2 separate regions of the Homo sapiens genome follow, and region 2 is linked to region 1. Evidence: fine-mapped QTL for protein levels in blood plasma. Region 1 holds a variant in brackets. A gene starts in the other region. All regions are shown on their forward strands.

Region 1 (2,911 bases):
GACCATTGTGTCCCCACCTCAGCCTCAACCTCCTCACAGGAAATGGAGGCTGTGGACACCTTTTTCCTGGTGGTGCCAGGAAGGGCCCTGAGGAGAGGTGTCAGGGAGCAGAGGCTGCTCTGTCTGCCACTCGGGCAAGGTCACCAGGGAGTCCTGTGTGCGCCCTGACTGTTGGACAGGGTTCCCATTCCACGGCACCCCGCAGGCCTGTGGGTGCTGCCACCCCCGCCACTGGCCTCAGAGATGCACAGGAGCCCTGACATGCAGACAGCATGCTTGGGAGGGAAGGGCTGACTCAGCACCCACTCCTCTGCCTCCTCACCTCGCTCCCAGGACCCTGGCTCACTCTGACTGCAGCAGGGCCAGGACCCTCCTCGTGGCCCTGCCATCCTGCCATCTCCGTCTCCGTCTCACTCCCCACAAGTGGTTGCTATTGCTGGTTTGGTTCCGCGTCAAAGTTCCCAAGGCCATGTACCCTAAGGAGTCCTCACCCCGAGGCCAAAAGAGAGCCTCTTTTTCATGGCCCACCCAGGAGTGATGGAGCCAGGATGCAACCCCAACACCCCTAACCCCAAACACACACGCCTCCTGTGGCCCTGAAACAAACATCTCCCACCTTGCTACGTCTCAGAGCATCTGTGCTTGATTCGGAAGATCCTCTGGGCCTCCTGGGTGTGTGCCAGGAGGGGATCTGTGCAGGTGGGGTCTGTGCTTCCTGGGCTCACTCCACCTCTTGCCCAGCCCCACTGGGAACCAGGGTCTGAGCAGGGCTTGAGCTACATAGATTGGACCCTCTCTTGACGAACGATCTCATTTGCCAAGAAGAGCCAGGGACCATGGCCCATCCACCACCTGTCATCAGCAGCATTTCTGGTCTCTGACACAGCATCACCTACCTGGAGCGGGGCCTGTGCTGGCCCCCTGTGGGACAACAGCTCCCCTCTTCCCCACTTCCCCCTATGAAGAGTGACCCCCGCCTAGGACCAGCATATGCCTTGATGGCAGTGGACACCTGGGTCCCACAGGTTGCTGGCTGTGGCCTGGAGGAAGGGTCCACCAGGTCTCAGTCCTGAGAGACAGTGGAAAATGGACCAAAACCCGACATGTTCTGAGGGTAGGATTGGGGTGGCTGGTTTTCCTCTTCTGTGTTCTCTAACTGCCCCGTAACGCAGATGATGGTTTTATAATGAGAAGAAGTAATAGCTGTGTTATCCTTGAGCTTAGGAGGCAAAACAAGTGTGTTTGAAATGAAAAGAACAAGTCTTTTCCAAAGTAGTCTCCGTGGAGATTGTGGGTGCTCTGACACTGCCACATGGGTCACAGCACCCGACCCAGCCCCCTAATGTCCCCGCCTCCCATTCCAGCTCACCAACCACCAGGAGCTGTGGGCCTTCATCGTCACCAACCTGGCGAGTGTGTATATACGGGAAGGAAATAGACACCAAGAGGTAGTAGGTGACATGCTTCATGTTCGGTATCCTTTCTCTCTGTTCTCTTCTTTTTGGGGAACCAGGGGGTTGTCCTGGGCACCAGCACATCTCAGCAGACCCCAGGGTGTTCACCTTTTGAGGGATGGGCGGCACCCGACACAGACACACAAGGCGACCCAGAGGTGAATCGGGCTATGGCCGGGGGAGGCCAGGTCTGGGACAAAAACATTCCC[A/G]TAGCCACAGAACACTTCTCTTTATCACAAACAAACCAAGCTGTATGAATCACACAGACAAGGTCTTATAGCCCAAGCTGTCTGCTCTAGGATGTCGGCCAGGCATTGAGGCTCAGTCCTAAGGGGCAGCAGCCAGAGCACCTTGTCCCCAGGTTGTGCTGATGCCCCTGCAGGATCAGGGGCACTCACTGGCTGCAGTGTTGGGTGGGGATGCCCAGGGTTGCCCTCACGTGGCGCTTCTGAACCAATGCTTGCATAAGAGTTAGGTTCCCTCTTCTGTCCCTTTTAGCCCTGGGATCCCCACTCAGCCCTGGGATCCCCCTCAGCCCCGGGATCCCCTCCTCAGCCCCGGGATCCCCTCCTCAGCCCTGGGATCCCCCTCAGCTCTGGGATTCCCTCCTCAGCCCTGGGATGCCCACTCAGCCCTGGGATCCCCCTCAGCCCTAGGATGTCCCTCAGTTCTAGTATCTCCTTCACCTCTGGGGGTCTACCTCCAAAGTGTATCAGGCCAGGTGCTTGGCTCACACCTGTAATCCCAGCACTTTGGGAAGCAAGGCAGGAGGATCACTTGAGGTCAGGAGTTCAAGACCAGCCTGGGCAACATAGGGAGACCCCCATTTCTACAAAAAAATTTTTTAAAAACTTGGTGGGGTGCAGGCCTGTGGTCCCAACTACTCGGGAGACTGAGGCAGGAGGATTGCTTGAGCTAGGGAGATTGAGGGCTGCAGTGAGCCATGATCCAGCCACTGCACTCCAGCCTGGGCGACAGAGCAAGAACCTGTCTCAAAGGAAAAAGAAAGCCCAGCCCCGGCTTAGTCATCCGATGCCATACGTGGGCTCGCAGTGTTGAGGAGGAGTTTGGCTCCCCTGTGCCTCTGCAGCTAGAGGGCAGCTAAATTATCAGTCAGATCACGCCCCCATCAGAGCCTCCCGGGGTCCCTGCACCTCCAGAGAAATCCCACCCACTCACCCCCACAGCCCACAGGGCTCACGGGCCCCAGCCTGCCAACCTACCCACTGCCAGGCCAGCCCCTCAGCACCACTCTGACCATACAAAGGCCTTCTGGACGCCCAGGCCCCTGTCACCTACTGCAGGACAGGGTGGCACAGGCAGGGCTGGCTGAGGGTGTGGAAATCTTGCCCCCGGCCCTTCTCACCAGAGGCTGCTCTTGCTGGTCAGTCACCAGGCTCAGCCTGGAGGCCACAGTCCCGACGGGGGTGTAGAGAAATTCCCATGCACTGCAGTGT
Region 2 (2,896 bases), not on the chromosome of region 1:
GATGTATGCTAATGCCACTGCCCTGAATGCTAATGGAATGTATGCTTATGTATTCTTGAGCTTTAGAAAAAAATCCTCAGTCTTAATTTCTAATGCATAAATTGCAATAGCAATATCAATAGGTAAAACCTACACAGGCAAAAGTTCTTTGAGGTCCTTGGAAATTATTAAGAGTATACAAGGGTCCTGAGACCAAAAATTTGAGAACTGGTAAGATTTAATGCATCAACTACCATTACACAGTGTCCTTGTTTCTCATCAATGCATTTTATATAGCAATTATTTTATCTAATCCCATGAAACTCACTTTATTGGATGCTTTTGCCATATCCTTATTTTCTAGCATCGTAGCTATTAGGTCATCTAATTATTAATCTGTTTGTGTCTTTGGGTTTAAATGTGTCTTTTGAGGCCACACAATGTTGGACTTCATTTTTTAATGGAGCCAACAATCAGCAATTGTTAATGCATTTGCTTTGTGTTCTATTACTCTGCAGTTTATCTTACTCATTGTTATTTTTGCTTTCTTTAAATTTATGTTTTCTTAATGGACTTTAAAATTCTTTATTTATTTTTTATGTCAGACAATAAACATCCCTAGTCTGCCCATCTTTCTATCATTTCAACATCATCATATTTCCAAATAACTTTTCATTGTTTCCTATAATTTTACTATTAATAGTATAGGATTAAGAAAATAAACCTTATCTGGGTTCTGGCTGGCACTGCCTTCCCTCTAGGGATGAAAATGGAGTGTAGTCTGTAATATATCCTGGTATCATAAATATATTTATAAAATTATACAAATGTAGCTTGCAGTTCTAAAGGCATGTAATCTAATTTTTACTTGAATTTTATCTTTTTTCTCTTTTTGTCCTTCATAGACCTCGAGCTCTGTCTAGCCCTCAACTGTTCTCAAATCTCCATTGTTTTCTACAAGTGACCCTCACAGCTGTGGGCCTTTGTTGACAAATTGTTTCATCTCCTCTGGGTCTTAAATTATTTTCTCTTACTCTAAAGTGAAAATTTGATGAATGTTTCCAGATACTGCACTTGGAATCATAACTTAATTTCCCTTAACCTTGTGTAAATTCTGTCCCCCCACTACTCCCAACTCCTATCCCTCCTCCAAAGCACTGATACTTATTATCACATTTAAATTTTTTCCCCGCTCTACTGATAACTTACAGAATGCAGGACTGCATTGTGATGGGGTAATTTCCATGAGTTGATTGGTTGGTTTTGAGTTGAAAAACTTAACAATGATACATCTTAAATTCTTTCTTTGAGGATTATTCCTTAATGAATTCGTGCTACGGACATACTGAGGTGGTTATTTTTATATTTCCCTGATAATAAATTCTAAATTGCTAAGGGTTTCTTACCACCCTCGTCCTTTTACTGTTACTAGATCTATTTTTAGCTGGTGTGGGCGTCCCCAGCTAGTTTCACTTGCCTAATGCTAGTTCTTTTTTCTTCTACATCAGGTCGCCTCTTCCTAGCATCTTCTCCATGTTTCTTGTTGCTCTACAGCATTTACAAGACCCAGTTTAATAGTTTAGTGCCTTTTTTGTCACTCATTATTTCTTCTTTGTTCTCTGTTAAAATAATAAGTGTATGATCCATTGCACTTGCCTTAGAGTCTTGAACCAGTCTTGGATTTCCCGCCATCTGGGTTCTGGCTGGCTTGCAATTTCTCCTTTGATGTTGTAATACTTTTTCATTGAACTTGAGTGTGGGGCTTATAGAGCTTCTTTGCTTTCATTATTTTTTCCCAAAATGTGCACATTTTTTTTCTTAAGCTTATTTTGCTGTTTTGTGCTGTTATTTTTAATTGCTTCCCACTGGGTGGGGGGGTAGGGGGACTGAGAGTGAGATTTGGCTTGAGTTTGGCTCTCTTTGCTATTACTCACATTTCCCCCCAGAAGCCCTACATGCACTCCTCTCTCTCTGTCTTTGACAAATTACTTTTGAAAGATCATTGATCCCTGGCGTAAATGGTGTTAAGAGTAAGATGGACTCGGGTAGGGATGCTCAGGAATCCAGTCCTGTACAGTCATGAGCTTGGCCATCTGGAAGTCTCCTCTTGCTCAATGAAATGGAGTAAACATTGTCCATTATGAAATCCACCACACAGGCTGCCAGGGACGAATGGGATCCCACCCAAAGCCAATCGCTGCTCTGACAGGGAAATTGGCTAGCACTGCCTGAGACTACTCCAGCCTCCCCCGTCCCTGATGTCACAATTCAGAGGCTGCTGCCTGCTTAGGAGGTTGTAGAAAGCTCTGTAGGTTCTCTCTGTGTGTCCTACAGGAGTCTTCAGGCCAGCTCCCTGTCGGATGGCTTTTATGAAAAAATATCTCCTCCCCATTCTGGGGCTCTTCATGGCCTACTACTACTATTCTGCAAACGAGGAATTCAGACCAGGTAAGTACCCATGCGTCTCATTTTGGAGGAATAGGTTTAAAAAACACAGGGGTGCTTGAGTGTTCCTGAGGACCAAGATGTGTTCTTGATCCTCAAAGTTGGTGAAAATGAGGGAACCCTGAGTTAAGATGGTATTTTTGTGTCCTCCAGCTACAGGCTGTGGACAGGGGGGACTGTGTAGGAAGGGTAATCGTGTAGCCAAAATCTAGCCAAATAGGCCATGCTTTATTTGGCACCCTTAATGGAAAGCAGTTTCAAATCTTCTACAAAAATGAGAGTAATACCCAAATTCACAACTCAGCAGCTAATTGGGCTCTATGAAGAGACTGATAAGTGGGAGGCAAAAAAAAAAAAAAAAAAAACTGGAGATGATGACTACATAGAAGTGAGGGAAAATCCCTGGAATTTCTATGAACACATGTGTTTTGATTCCTTGTTAAATGTACTTTCAATTGAGCAAAATTGAAAG

Alleles and levels. Positions count from the first base shown, and alleles are read on the strand shown. Strength reflects both the effect of a copy and how common the allele is.
For the plasma level of the protein whose gene starts at base 2,243 in region 2, allele G in region 1 goes with a higher level than allele A (weak association).

The links. A credible set is the group of variants that fine-mapping cannot tell apart. PIP is the chance, under the fine-mapping model, that this variant and not a neighbour inherited with it causes the effect. Protein levels are from antibody-based Olink assays in UK Biobank. Linkage for the fine-mapping came from a reference panel and not from the study's own genotypes, which makes the PIPs less certain.
Region 2: HSD11B1 starts here. The variant in region 1 is the best candidate, but not a certain one, in a credible set for the plasma level of the HSD11B1 protein (UK Biobank, PIP 0.52).

Annotation. Positions count from the first base shown.
Region 1 is chr19:19,345,916-19,348,826 of GRCh38, forward strand. MAU2 (MAU2 sister chromatid cohesion factor) reads left to right here. Exons shown (of 19, transcript NM_015329.4): 13 at 1,365-1,451. Among named protein-coding and RNA genes, the nearest start is that of MAU2, 27 kb to the left of the region's middle. The variant A/G (reference allele first, on the strand shown) is at 1,664.
Region 2 is chr1:209,702,604-209,705,499 of GRCh38, forward strand. HSD11B1 (hydroxysteroid 11-beta dehydrogenase 1) reads left to right here and starts at 2,243. Exons shown (of 6, transcript NM_005525.4): 1 at 2,243-2,427. The coding sequence starts at 2,340. The region is part of intron 1 of HSD11B1-AS1 (HSD11B1 antisense RNA 1); the gene reads right to left.